4 linked regions of the Homo sapiens genome follow. The protein of the gene in region 2 interacts with the protein of the main gene of each other region in a biochemical or structural test. Each region holds a gene or a part of one and is shown on either strand. Other genes may lie near its edges.

Region 1 (3,592 bases), on a different chromosome or scaffold from region 2:
AAGCCCCCTCCAAGACAGTTGGTAGGAGTATAAATTGGTTCAGAAATCAGTTTGGAAGTATTTATCAAAATTAAAAGTGTACATGTTCTTTGACTTAGCAGTTCCACTTCTAGAAATAATTCTACAGAGAAACTCATTCAAGTGCAAAAGAGTGTTTATTGCTAGTAAAAGCAAGAAACTAGAAACAACCTAAAGCTCACAGTTGGAGATCCGTAAGGTAAATACAGTGCATATATGTGCACTGATAAAAGAAAAATGAACAAGATGTAGAGGAGTAAGTTATCATTTGCTTTAAAAGATTGTGTGTGCTTGCATATGCATAGAACATTTATGGGAAGATACTGAAAAATGTTTAACAGTATGTCTAAGAAATAGAACAGAGGTCTTCAGGGAATGGGTGGTAAGGAAAAGAGACTGTACTCTTCATTATATATTTGTTCTTAGTGCATGTATATTTTTAACCATGTAAATAGTGTTCTTTATTTAAAAACAGTATTTTAAAGTTTCTATAATGTAAATTTTTATTTGGTAAATCTAATAAATTACTTAATTCCATATCATGCCATCTCTAAAATCTTTTGGAAATTGCCTCCCCTCTGTCGTGCTCATTAATAAAACAATATTAAGAGTAGTAACCCTACTTACTTCAGAAAGTAGTTGTTTTTATTAATGGCATATGAAAGCAATTTGAGAACCATAAACTAATATGGAAATATAAGGCATTCTAAGGACAGAGATGAAAAGGGAAGGATATAGGGGAGGATAAAGGAAAGAGGAAAAGCAGAAAGAAAAAGGAAAAAAATACTCAGTTGGGTTCTGGGATAGAAGTCTGATAAGAACTTTTTGACATCCTGTCATTTATTTGAATGACTTGTTCCTCAAACCCAACGCGCACATTTCATGTTTTTTTTAGTTTTTTTTTCTGTTTTTTTTCCTGTTTGATAGCTGTCAGTTATAGTGATTGGTATTTAATACAAAAAAAACCAAAGATATGAAAATTGTTCTATATTTTAATCTGCAAATTGCTCCATTAGGCAGATTTAATTATTTGTGGATTTACTTATGGTGCTTCCAGATATCTTGTACCTCTTAATGTGACCATCAGAAAACTTGACTGAGAAACATTTGTACTATACAAAATACAAAATGCTTTCAGTATATTATTGCAAGTGCTTCTTAAAAACATATAGTATTGTTAAATGTGTACTTTTTAATGTTGTCTTGTTTAAATTGGAAAATTAACCAAATGTTATCCATTTAAACATGCTTTATAACATATTAAATGTGAGTGCTTAATAAGTACTTTTAATGATACTGGTACGGGTGTTGGAACCCAGTCCTAGTCAAGAGTCTAAATCTTCATCTCTGTTTTTCAGACAAATGTAGTAGGACATTCTTTAGGATGTACTTGGCATTCCTTGAGGAATTCTCCTGGTGAAAAGATCAACTTACTGAAAAGAAGCCTCCTTAGTATTCCAAATACAGATTACATCCAGCTGCTTAGTGAAATTGCCAAGGAACAAGGTTTTAATATAACATATTTGGATATAGGTATGATTTTTTTTTCTTTGGCTTTCCCAAGACATGTTTATTTAAAAATGTGTTTGAGGAACAAAAATGTGTTTGAGGAATAAAAATTTCTATTACAATTTATTTTATTGATCAGGGATTCTAAGTATATATAATTACTAGGCCAGTAATATATATAATTGATATGTCCCATTCTTGTGGATAGTAATAATAGCTAACATCTATACAGTTATAACAAAAACAACAATAGCAAAGATAGAGTTTTACTGTGTGCCAGACACTGTTCTAAGATTACACGTATCTACTTACTGAATCCTCAGACTAACTCTATGAAGCAAATTCTGTTATCCTTATTTATAAGTAAAGGAAGAAAGGCACAGAAAGGTTGAGAAACTTGCCCAAGATCACATAGCTAGTCAGCGGTAGAGCAAGATTTGGGGAAGAGTCCCAGAAGATACCCTGGCTGTTAAACTAGCCCTGCTGGGCAAATGAAAAGGCACCTACATTTCTAGCACAAGTACAAGTTTGTGGTGCCCAGACCTTTTCTCTCTACTTTGTCACTGTATGCTGATTCTGGGAGGTAAATGGAACCAAGTCAATTTATAGTTTTATCCCATCTCAGCCATCATCATCTGTATTTTCTCTAGCCCTTAATCATTTGGATAGACAAATATGGACAGATGGGAAAGCAAGTCAGTATGGATTTTCTTTTAATTCAATTTATAGAGCTAATTAGTTGTGTGTGTTTGGTGTCTTGATTTTTTTTTTTTTTTTTTTTTTTTGAGACGGAGTATTGTTTCTGTTGCCCAGGCTGGAGTACAGTGGCACAATCTCAACTCACTGCAACCTCTGCCTCCTGGGTTCAAGCGATCCTCCTGCTTCAGTCTCCCAAGAAGCTGGGAATACAGGCATCCACCACCAAGCCTGGCTAATTTTTTTTTTTTTCCCCAAGATGGAGTCTTGATCTGTTGCCCTGGTTGGAGTGCGGTGGCATGATCTCAGCTCACTGTAACCTCTGCCTCCCAGGTTCAAGCAATTCTCCTGCCTCAGCCTCCTGAGTAGCTGGGACTACTGCTGTGTGCCACCACACCCACCTAATTTTTGCATTTTTAGTAGAGACGGGGTTTCACCATGTTGGCCAGGCTGGTCTCAAACTCCTGACCTCATGATCCACCCACCTCGGCCTCCCAAAGTTTTTTTTTTTTTAGTAGAGATGGGAGTTTCACCATGTTGACCAGGCTTGTCTCAAACTCCTGACCTCAAGTGATCTGTACACCTCAGCCTCCCAAAGTGCTGGGATTACAGGTGTGAGCCACCGTGCCTGGCCAAAGTATCTTGATTTAACATGTGTGAGAAATTTTATATCCCTATCCAACCACAGAAAGATGTGGGGACCTTGCTTGTCAGGGTCCCCTGACCCTGGGAAAGTAGGGCACTTAGGGGCTCAAAGAACTCCTGATATTCTGTGCTACTTTGGGATTGAAGGACGGGTGAAGTGCATTGTCTCAGTAAACCAATAATGATGCAGAACCTGGGAAGTCAGTGCAGACAGATGGTTAGAAAAGGTGGCTGATGAAAAATTAGCTGGGTGTGGTGGCACATGCCTGTAGTCCAGTCTACTAGGGAGGCTGAGGTGGGGACAATGACTTGAGCCTCTGAGGTTGAGGCAGCAGTGAGCCATGATCATGCCGCTGCTCTCCAGCCTGGGTGACAGAGTTAGACTTGTCTCAAAAAAAAAAAAGAAAAGAGGCTGGAGGCCAGGTGCGGTGGCTCACACCTGTAATCCCAGCACTTTGGGAGGCCAAGTCGGGCAGATCACCTGAGGTCAGGCGTTTGAGACCAGCCTGACCAACACGGTGAAACCCTGTCTCTACTAAAAATACAAAAATTAGCCAGACAAGGTGGCGTGCACCTGTAATCCCAGCTACTCGGGAGGCTCAGGTGGGAGAATCACTTGAACCCGGGAGGCAGAGGTTGCAGTGAACCGAGATCGCGCCACTGCACTCCAGCCTGAGTGACAGAGTGAGACTCTGTCTCAAAAAAAAAAAAAGAAAAGGTGGCT
Region 2 (3,500 bases):
GTTTTAATTAGTATTATGTGTTGAATGTTATTTGAATGTTCTTTTTGGTAAGTATTGAGAGTTTTGTTTTTATACTTGGCCCATTAATATATCACAAAATCATTCTCATAAATCCTTTGATAAATCCCATTTGGCCTTAGAGGATTATTTTTACAAATATTTTTTAAAATTAAGTTTTACTAGCATTTATGATTTTCTTTATCCATTAGTGAAATTGGTCTTTTTTTTTTTCTTTTGTGTGTGCGCTTTGTATTTATCTGTCCATTTTTCCCCTTACTTGAAGATACTGGTTCCAGAACTCTGTGCTATACATCCAATTCCAGCATCACTGTGGAGAAAAGCTGTTTGTCTCCCCAGCATACTTTATCGCCTTCACTGCCTTTTGACTGCAGAGGAGCTAAGAGCCCAGACTGCCAGCGATGCTGGCGTGGGAGTCAGATCACTTCCTGCGGATTTTAGGTATGCCTGTGCAGTCAGCCAGAAAGAACACAGATCATGAGATCCTGTTTGCAAAAGAACAGAATTAAGTTAAAATTGTATATAAAATAATTCTTAAAAGAGTAAAAAGAAAATAATGGATATCTTATGTCTTGTCAAGTCTCAGAGGGAGATGAGAATCTGAGGTCAGAAATAACCATTACTGCTTAAGCCATAACAGTTGGAGTGAGAATGAAATTGTTCTTTGTTACTGCATCAGCATTTTCAGTCTGTTTTTTCTTTTAAAAATCCAAATATATGTTAAAAAGCAATAGCCTTAGCATGTTCTTTGTCTTCATTATTTTCTTCCCATTAGTAAAATCTCTGCATTCTAAAGAAACTGTTGGCTTAAACACTCACATTAGTTCTGGTTATCCAATTGGCAATATCAAGACTGTTCTAGGGATTGAAGGAATTTTAAAATATAATAGGAATAACCACAATATTTATTGGTTAGTTGCTATAGTGCCAAACACTAGCTTAAATGCTGTACCCTGTGTTAGTTAGCTCATTTAATCATTAAGACAGTGCTATGAGATAGGAATTGTTAGCCCTTTTCTCAGGTGCAGAAGCTGAGGCACAGAGAGTTTATGTAAGTTGCCCAGAGTTACTCAGCGGGTTAACCAGAGTGCCTGGGATTCCAACCCGTGAAGCTAGGCCCCAGGTCCTGCAGGATGCCTGCAAGCTTCGTGACCTTCTTAACTACCACACCTAGAGTCTAGGGCCAGGGATTAAAGCAGTAGATAAAACCATGTCCCACTTTATAATTTACACTGTAAATTAAAAATTTGGAAACTTGCTTCTATTCTAAAGTTTAGGAGTACATTTTTGGGATCTTTGTTTTTGTTTTTAAATTCAAATTGCTGTTGCTCTCAGCCTAGCTGTTTTGAAGAATCTGATGTAAAGTTATAAAAATGTCTTTGCAGATACCCTAACTTAGACTTCGGGTGGAAAAAATCTATTGACAGCAAATCTTTCATCTCAATTTCTAACTCCTCTTCAGCTGAAAATGATAATTACTGTAAGCACAGCACAATTGTCCCTGAAAATGCTGCACATCAAGGTGCTAATAGAACCTCCTCTCTAGAAAATCATGACCAAATGTCTGTGAACTGCAGAACGTTGCTCAGCGAGTCCCCTGGTAAGCTCCACGTTGAAGTTTCAGCAGATCTTACAGCAATTAATGGTCTTTCTTACAATCAAAATCTCGCCAATGGCAGTTATGATTTAGCTAACAGAGACTTTTGCCAAGGAAATCAGCTAAATTACTACAAGCAGGAAATACCCGTGCAACCAACTACCTCATATTCCATTCAGAATTTATACAGTTACGAGAACCAGCCCCAGCCCAGCGATGAATGTACTCTCCTGAGTAATAAATACCTTGATGGAAATGCTAACAAATCTACCTCAGATGGAAGTCCTGTGATGGCCGTAATGCCTGGTACGACAGACACTATTCAAGTGCTCAAGGGCAGGATGGATTCTGAGCAGAGCCCTTCTATTGGGTACTCCTCAAGGACTCTTGGCCCCAATCCTGGACTTATTCTTCAGGCTTTGACTCTGTCAAACGCTAGTGATGGATTTAACCTGGAGCGGCTTGAAATGCTTGGCGACTCCTTTTTAAAGCATGCCATCACCACATATCTATTTTGCACTTACCCTGATGCGCATGAGGGCCGCCTTTCATATATGAGAAGCAAAAAGGTAAGAGATGATTTTTTTATTTTGAGCAGTTAATTATTCAGTGTGCCTGAAAGTGGTTTGCAGTGTTGGATAATCTCAGAGGATGAGAACGTATCATGCTCAGAAATTGCTACACCGGCCAAGCACAGCTGCTCCCTTGTTCTACCAGGGCCAGCGAAAGCCTGTGGCAGAACTACCTGGCAGTTGATGAGTATTGCTTTACACCAATCCCACACTCAGGTTTTGGGGCTTAGCTGATCTCCACGTGCCTTACTTTTTGATTGAAAGTCAGTTCAAAGGAAGCTATGCAAGTGTGTACACCCCTTGATCCTGAGGGGGATATGAAGAAATGTGCATTGTAGTCAGTCAAGGAGCTTCTGCTTTGTTGAGTTAAACATTTATTTGAGAGGGTACGTCTTGGCTTACAAGGCATACAGACATGAGTAAGACACAAGTCTTGTGGAGGAGCTCATCTCCAAAGTTTTGGAGAGTGGAGCGGAGAAGAGTAACAAGCTTCACAGAGCTTGGCTGCTCTCCAGTGTGAAGAGGGTGACACCAGAGTTCTGAGTAATTAACGCTCGATAGCTCAGAGAAAGGGCGGGCTCTTAAACTCAGCATGGACTAAGACTTAAGAAAAGGAATGAAGGTAAGATATTCAAGTTATGGGGGAAAAATGGAAAAAAGTCTCACAAGGCAACATGAGCCTCCTGGACAAATACCTTAGAAAGCTGCTGATCACTTGCAGCACTCAGAAGGAAGGAGCATCACTGTTGAATCAAGGATGGCATTAATGGAGGAGGCAAGTTGACAGTGCATAAGCAAAGTGAACAGATGGCAGAGCATGTCAGCGTCAGGGAAGCAGCCGTGGCAGCAGTCAGAAGTGTGGAAATACCTGAGAAAAGGCTTGAAAAGGCAGCTGGGGTGAAGCTGTATCGTGGAAGGCCTTGAATGCTGGGCTAAGGAGTTTGCACGTGTTTTGAATGTTGTAGGCACTGTTGAAGGAATTTAGAGCAAGGAACTATTAATGTTAATAAAGTGGTAGTTTAAAATGATTAATCTGGTAGCAGAATGTAGTGTGAGTTGAAAAGCATATCCAAACCAACAGCAGAAGCAGAGAATGGGATAGAACTAGAGTTCTGGTAGAGAGGAAGGGGCTGAGGTGAGTGAGAATTTCAGAAGAAATAATTTTAGCTAACAATTTAAAAGTGCTTACTCTGCACTACTCTAAAAGATAACCGTATACGCACACACACGTACACACACCCACATATATACACATATATGCATATAAACCTAATTTAATTTTTATAATTCTGAGAGGTAGAAACTTTTATTTT
Region 3 (3,592 bases), on a different chromosome or scaffold from region 2:
GCATGGGTTGAGGCTTTTCCGAAAACCAACAAATGAGCTTCGACTGTCACCTCCAAATTAATAACAGAAATCATCCCCAGGTTCAGGGTGCCTCCTTCTTTTCAATCTGATAATGGTCCTGAATTCATTTCTCAAATTACTCAAACACTTGCACAAGCCCTACGAATCACCTGGAAGCTACACATCCCCTATCAACCCCAGTCTTCAGGAAAGGTTGAAAAAATGAATGGCATTCTAAAAATCACCCGCACCAGGTACTCACTCCAAACACATAAAGACTGGGTTACACTTCTAGCTTTGGCCCTCCTAAAAATTCGGGCACTCTCACGTAAACCTTTAATGCTCATCCCCTTTGAACTCATGTATGGGAGTTTTGAGCATAAGTATTTGAACTCATGCTCCTTTTGTTCCACCTCAGGGTCAAGCCCCACCTCTAACAACCCCTCTCATTTCTCCTCTTCTGCATATCATCTGCCATTTCATTTGGGAATATGCTGACAAAATACAACTCCTTTAATCCCTTCCTACAGTCAGGAAACTGGGTTCTGGTAAAAGGTCCCAGCCCTACCCCCAATTCCCCCCTCACACCAAAATGGAAGGGGCCTTACCAGATCTTCCTCACTACACCCACAGCAGCAAAGCTCCAGGGACTCCCCAGCTGGTTTCATTATACTTCTCTCAAGAACACAGACTTCCCTTCACTACACATCCAAACAATCAAATCTAAACCACCTTCAGCCTCTCTTGTGTCTCCACAGGATCCACTTCCCTTCATCTCACATGAATGCCGGAGGAAAAGGAAGAGAAATTCACCTAAGCAGCTATGTCTCTTTCTCTCCCAAACTTTCATTGCTTCCTAACTAGCCTTGTTACAGACCTTCAGTGGTATCCTTATGAAACTCTCATTATACATCCTGATCAGCTCCTTACTATTCCACGGGATTTATGGCTTCAAGGAACCTTCCAGGACTTTATTCCTACCCAAACTTTTTCCTCCTTTTGTTGTTTCTTTCTATCTAAATTCCCTAATCACATCAACCTCACCGATACAACCACTCCTCACTGCTATCAAACTAGAACGTTCTATAAACCTTACACAACCCCTCTTGCTGCAAGCTAACTCTTCCTTTGCTCCAGAATGCTGGATGTGTTTATCGCTGTCTTCTTCAGCTTATACATCCCTTCCTACACCCCTTCATGACCTTTTAACAGAAAACGTAACCCTAATCTATAAACTCCAAAAAGGAGCTTCCTTTTTTGAAAGAGCTGACAGTCTGGTTGGCGATTATCCCACTTCCAAGGTCAATCAGGCCAACACATTATTTCAAACCTATTACAACTCCCTACAACGCCTTAAGCCACAAGGCCCTCCCATTGAAGGGCCCATAATTAAACACACCCCACTTTTACAACAAGCCTCACTTTGCTTTTCAGCCTCTGAGGGAAATTTCCGTGTAAGATCCTTAAACCTAACCAATGCAACCGCATTATCATTGTTAAACACCCTGCTGACCATCAAACTAACCGAGTTGACTACCAAGTATCACCTGAAACGAATGGAGCATTTCTGCAACCTGTTCGTTTTGCAGCCTCTCCCTCAACCAATGCCTCTGGCCTAATTTGTGCTGCCCCTAGCGCCCACCTTTATCCATGGCTCAACATCAATGCAATGGTGCAACATCAAATCGTATTAAATGTGTAAAAAATAACTCTTCCTATATCGCTACTATAGTGGGTGTCTCCTTGACCTCCTCCTTGACCACCTGGAGTAATGAACCATAGGAAAGAAAAAACACCCATCTTTAATTCACTTGTTTTCTTTCTGTATCTCCAACTGTATTTATGACAAAGGCTTATTTTTTGTGTGAGTGGCACCAACACATATCTTTGTCTCCCCACTAACTGGACTGGAACCTGTACCCTAGTTTATCTTTCTCCCTCCATTGGACTAATTCCTCCTAGCCAACCTTTGCCCATTCCATCCATCCAATACGTTAGGAAGAGGAGGGCCATCCACGTCATTCCTTTAATGGCTGCCTTGGATATAACCTCCAGACTTGGATTGGGAGCAGGCAGATTGGCCACTCCCTTAACATACTTTAAAGCTCTTTCCACAGAATTACAGGGTTCTTTAGAAGATATAGCCTGAAGCATTATAAGAGTCCAAGACAAACTAGACTCCTCGGCTGGAGTAGTCCTCCAAAACAGATGGGGACTAGATCTAATAATGGCTGAAAAAAGGGACCTCTGCCTCTCATTGGGTGAGGAATGTTGCTTTTATCTCAACCAATTGGGCCTAGTAAGAAACGCTGATGAAAAACTTAAAGAAAGGGCTAAAAAGCTAAGGGAGTATCAAAACAACCAACTAGATTCTTGGTTTGGGAACAAAATCATAATATGGGTCATCCCATTCCTGGGCCCCCTCTTAATGATAAGCCTAAGACTATTGTTCTTACCCTGCGTAGTTAATCTTATTCAAATATTTTTAACTGACAGGATCATGGCCATTTCACAGACAACTACCAAAAACATCCACCGACAGCATTACCCCTTCTTCTTTCTTCAGCACTTAAAATCTTACCTCTTGTCCACAGTATACTTTGTTTCTTTCATGTCAGGAAGGTCAAATCTGGGTGCCAAAGATCTAAAAATTAAGAGTTGAATGTAAAACTCAAATAAAATTGAAATCAAATATAACTTATTTAGTGTTAATGTTAACCTTTTTCTTTCTTTTTTTTTCTTCAGAGGCAAGGTCTCACCCCATCTCCCAGCCTGGAGTGCAGTGGTGTGATCATAGCTCACTACAACTTTGAAATTCTGGGCTCAGAGGAGATCCTCCCACCTCAGCCTCCCAGGTAGCTGGGATTACAGGCATGTGCCACCATACCTGGCTAATTCTTTTTATTTTTAGTAGAGACAGGGTCTCTTCATGTTACCCAGTCTGGTCTCGAACTCCTGGACCCAAGCCATCCTCCCACCTTGGCCTCCCAAAGTGCTGGGGATCACAGGCGCAAGCCACAGCACCCAGCCAACTTTTTTCTTTATAAAACTATATACTTACCGTTCTCCTCTGGCCTCTAATACTTTTTCATCCCTCCTCTGGTTCCTTTTTCCACCTTAGAGTGCTCATTGTTGATGCGTCACTAACCTCTCCTTTTCCTCCTCCAGACTCAAAACCTCAGGAAGTACATCTCCTTACACCCTCATCCTAGCTGTTATTCCTTACTGATGATAAGCCACCTGCAAATGGAAGTTTAAATACCACCTAAAACTAAACATATCCAAACTGCTGTCTTCTCTCTAAGCCCTTAACTCCTTAACTTCCTTAACACCATTAGTGCCATGGTTCTTGACTGCATCCTGTTCAAAGTGAAGCAATCTTCAAATCCTTTCTCCTTTACCTCTCCTTCATGCTTTCACTCAGCTACGGGGAACCTATTCCCTCAAGTCATGTCCACTCTTCCTTTACAGTCTTTCTCACACATTCTCCTCATCCCTCCTGACTGCCACAGTAATCGTGGCTGAGGGCACCTCATGTGCAGAACTCTCTTCTCTCCATCCAAGCATCCACATCAAGAACCATGTTTCTTCA
Region 4 (3,592 bases), on a different chromosome or scaffold from region 2:
CCCTCCCTTTCTTTCCTTCTCTCTTTCTCTCTCTCTCTTTCTCTTGCTTTCTTGCTTTCTTTTTTTTTTTCCCAGACAGAGTCTCACTCTGTTACACAGCCTGGAGTGCAGTGGTGCAATCATAGCTCTCTTCAGCCTTGACCTCCTAGGCTTAAGCGATCCTTCTGCCCTCAGCCTCCCAAGTATCTGGGACTACAGACATGTGCCACTACACCCAGCTAAATTTTGGGGTTTTTGACAGACCGCAAGAATGAGCTGGCCCACTTGGCAACTCATGGCCCAGAGAATCCAAAACTGGAGATGCTGGAAAAGATCCTGCAAAGGCAGTTCAGTAGCTCTAACAGCCCTCGGGGTATCATCTTCACCCGCACCCGCCAAAGCGCACACTCCCTCCTGCTCTGGCTCCAGCAGCAGCAGGGCCTGCAGACTGTGGACATCCGGGCCCAGCTACTGATTGGGGCTGGGAACAGCAGCCAGAGCACCCACATGACCCAGGTGTGGGCTTCGGGGAAAGATGCTGGCGCTGGGAGGGATTCCATAGGAGAGAAGTGCGGGGAACAGGGTCTTCAGCACAGAGAGGTGGGGGCAGGGAGACCCTGGGGAAAGAGAAAGTTGACTATCCCCAGGCAGAGGGGCAAGGAGCTAGGGGAGAGGGGCGGACACTGACCTCCCCAGTGCTGGAGCCTCTCCCAGTCTGGAGGTCCTTGGGGGCAGAAGGTTGGGCATGGGGGTCCGTAGGGAAAGAGGTGGGTGATGCAGTTCCTCAGGGCACAGGATCAGGTCTGGGGTCCCTTGCAGAAGACTATGGCTTGAGAGTTTTTCCTAGACTAGAGGGGCAGGGACCCTTAGGAGTCCCTAGGGAAGATAGGGGTTGGACAGTTACCTGGGAAGATGGGCAAGATCCTGGGGGTACCTGGGGATAAAGATGGGATTCAAGTACTCTAGGGAGATGGACCAAGATTGGGAGTGAGGGCTGAACCAGAAGAGGCTACTCTGGCAGGTGGAGTCAGTCTGAGCCTCCTCATGTACCAGCCTCTTTCTCCTCCCTGCCCTCCGCCTGCAGAGGGACCAGCAAGAAGTGATCCAGAAGTTCCAAGATGGAACCCTGAACCTTCTGGTGGCCACGAGTGTGGCGGAGGAGGGGCTGGACATCCCACATTGCAATGTGGTGGTGCGTTATGGGCTCTTGACCAATGAAATCTCCATGGTCCAGGTACTCACATCCTCCTCCACTCAGCCGCCCTTATAGGATCCTGTGTGGGGCCCCAGCCCAACTCAGGACACCCCTTGTCTCTCTTCCCAGGCCAGGGGCCGTGCCCGGGCCGATCAGAGTGTATACGCGTTTGTAGCAACTGAAGGTAGCCGGGAGCTGAAGCGGGAGCTGATCAACGAGGCGCTGGAGACGCTGATGGAGCAGGCAGTGGCTGCTGTGCAGAAAATGGACCAGGCCGAGTACCAGGCCAAGGTCTGCAGGCAGCCTGCATGCCCTGTGGGAGGGATGGGGAGGAGGGAGCCCCTCCCTGGCAGGTTTCTGACTGCACACATACGTCCCCCTGTCCCCTCTACATCTCGGGGCTAACTTTGGCCACCTAGGGAAGGTTTAAATAAGGGCCGGGGTGGGGCTGCCAGGGAAGGCAGTACCTGGACTCCAGAAGGCCTTGGGAACAGGCCTTGTCCAAGGCTCTTTATTTATCTTTGCCATGAGATACTTTATGTATCTGGAAGAGCTGCATTACAGCCTTTCTGGAACCAGGCAGAGGGGACAAGATAAGTCCACGTGCAGAAGATAAGCCCAGAACTAGGACTTATATCATCAGTTCCCCTGAGGCAGGGCCACCACCATCCTGCCTTGTCCAGGGTGCTCCCTGTTGTCCCAGCATAATTGTTAATGATGCCCCATGACAGATTCACAGAAGCAGCTTTGCCTAAAGTCCTTCAAGATTGAGCAGGAAAGCTTACCCCTCCCACTGTTGCCCCCGACTACTCATACTGTTTTTCTCCATAGCTGTTTTTTTTTTTTTCCCCGAGACGGAGTCTCACTCTGTCACCCAGGCTGGAGTGCATGGCACAATCTCCACCTCCTGGGCTCAAGCAATTCTCTTGCCTCAGCCTCCCGAGTAGCTGGGATTACAGGCATGCGCCACCATGCCCGGCTAATTTTGTATTTTCAGTAGAGATGGGGTTTCACCATGTTGCCCAGGCTGGTCTCGAACTCCTGACCTCGTGATCCACCCGCCTTGGCCTCCCAAAATGCTGGGATTACAGGCATGAGTTACTGCATCATCACAGCAATAGAGCTTCTTTTAAGCTCCAGGGAGGGTTAAGGAAAGTCTCTTCCAGGTACAAATGATCTTAGTTCTTTGGGAACCTTTTGTCCCCCAAGGAACGTTCTCTTAGGCCCCAGCCATGCCTGGTGTCTCCTCCCACCCCAGATCCGGGATCTGCAGCAGGCAGCCTTGACCAAGCGGGCGGCCCAGGCAGCCCAGCGGGAGAACCAGCGGCAGCAGTTCCCAGTGGAGCACGTGCAGCTACTCTGCATCAACTGCATGGTGGCTGTGGGCCATGGCAGCGACCTGCGGAAGGTGGAGGGCACCCACCATGTCAATGTGAACCCCAACTTCTCGTGAGACCTGTGGAAGGGGCTACTGGGATGGGGGCCTGGGAATCCTTCCCATCCAGACAGTGCTTTGAAGCTTTGGGAAGCTAAAGAGCATTGTAGCAAGTACTTTGCATTTTCACAATAATCTGGTTAGACAGGTTTTATCCCTGTCTCCATTTTACAGGCAAGGAAATAGAGGCTCAGAGAGGCTATGTGACTTGCCCAAGTTCCCACAGCCACTATCTGGTTGAGCAAGAACTGGAATTCAGGATACTAAGTGTCAAAAGACCACACATTGACCCTCTGGTCCTACCTATTCCGAAGATATCAAGAGAGCTTGGCCATCCCTGGGCCATCCTCCATCCACTATCTCCTAGAGAGTAACCTTCCCCCATCCTCCATCCATTCATTATGTTACCCTCTGTGTTCCGGGCCACTGTGCCAAGGATCTTCACACAGATTTTCTCAATTGAGGAGGTTGCATTTCAGCTAGGTCTCAATGGGTCTGGTTTGAATGTGAGCGAATGAGAAGGTAACCATGGAGGGCCAGGTGCAGTGGCTCACGCCTGTAATTCCAACACTTTGGGAGGCGGAGGTGGGTAGATCACTTGAGGTTAGGAGTTCAAGACCAGTCTGGCCAACATATTGAAACCCCTTCTCTACTAAAAAAAAATACAAAAATTAGCTGGGCGTGGTGGCCCATGCTTGTAATCCCAGCTACTTGGGTGGCTGAGGCATGAGAATCACTTGAACCCGGGAGGCAAGCCAAGATCGCACCACTGCACTCCAGCCTGGGCAATAGAGTGAGACTCTGCCTTTAAAAAAAAAAAAGCGACACCAGTTGACCTGAGTGGAAGGGACTGTGAATAATGAGATTTAGAAAAAGACAGACTAGCCCGTGGAAGATTTGAAAGGTCAGGTGTGAAAGTGTAGCCTTTATCCAGGAGGTTCCTCTTAGGAATCTTGGATAGATTTTAAGGAACAGAATGTCAG

What was found.
Region 1: the proteins of DICER1 (region 2) and PRKRA form a complex in vitro, tested with the Homo sapiens proteins (one study listed by IntAct).
Region 3: the proteins of DICER1 (region 2) and EIF2AK2 form a complex in vitro, tested with the Homo sapiens proteins (one study listed by BioGRID).
Region 4: the proteins of DICER1 (region 2) and DHX58 form a complex in vitro, tested with the Homo sapiens proteins (one study listed by BioGRID).

Annotation. Positions count from the first base shown.
Region 1 is NC_000002.12:178,434,104-178,437,695, reverse strand, and holds part of PRKRA (interferon-inducible double-stranded RNA-dependent protein kinase activator A), read left to right. Parts: intron 1-1,376; coding exon 1,377-1,551; intron 1,552-3,592. UniProt on the Homo sapiens protein: Activates EIF2AK2/PKR in the absence of double-stranded RNA (dsRNA), leading to phosphorylation of EIF2S1/EFI2-alpha and inhibition of translation and induction of apoptosis.
Region 2 is NC_000014.9:95,102,030-95,105,529, reverse strand, and holds part of DICER1 (endoribonuclease Dicer), read left to right. Parts: intron 1-283; coding exon 284-459; intron 460-1,403; coding exon 1,404-2,184; intron 2,185-3,500. UniProt on the Homo sapiens protein: Double-stranded RNA (dsRNA) endoribonuclease playing a central role in short dsRNA-mediated post-transcriptional gene silencing.
Region 3 is NC_000002.12:37,132,903-37,136,494, forward strand, and holds part of EIF2AK2 (interferon-induced, double-stranded RNA-activated protein kinase), read right to left. Parts: intron 2,645-3,592; coding exon 2,582-2,644; intron 1-2,581.
Region 4 is NC_000017.11:42,102,639-42,106,230, reverse strand, and holds part of DHX58 (ATP-dependent RNA helicase DHX58), read left to right. Parts: intron 1-241; coding exon 242-495; intron 496-1,063; coding exon 1,064-1,213; intron 1,214-1,303; coding exon 1,304-1,465; intron 1,466-2,432; coding exon 2,433-2,623; intron 2,624-3,592.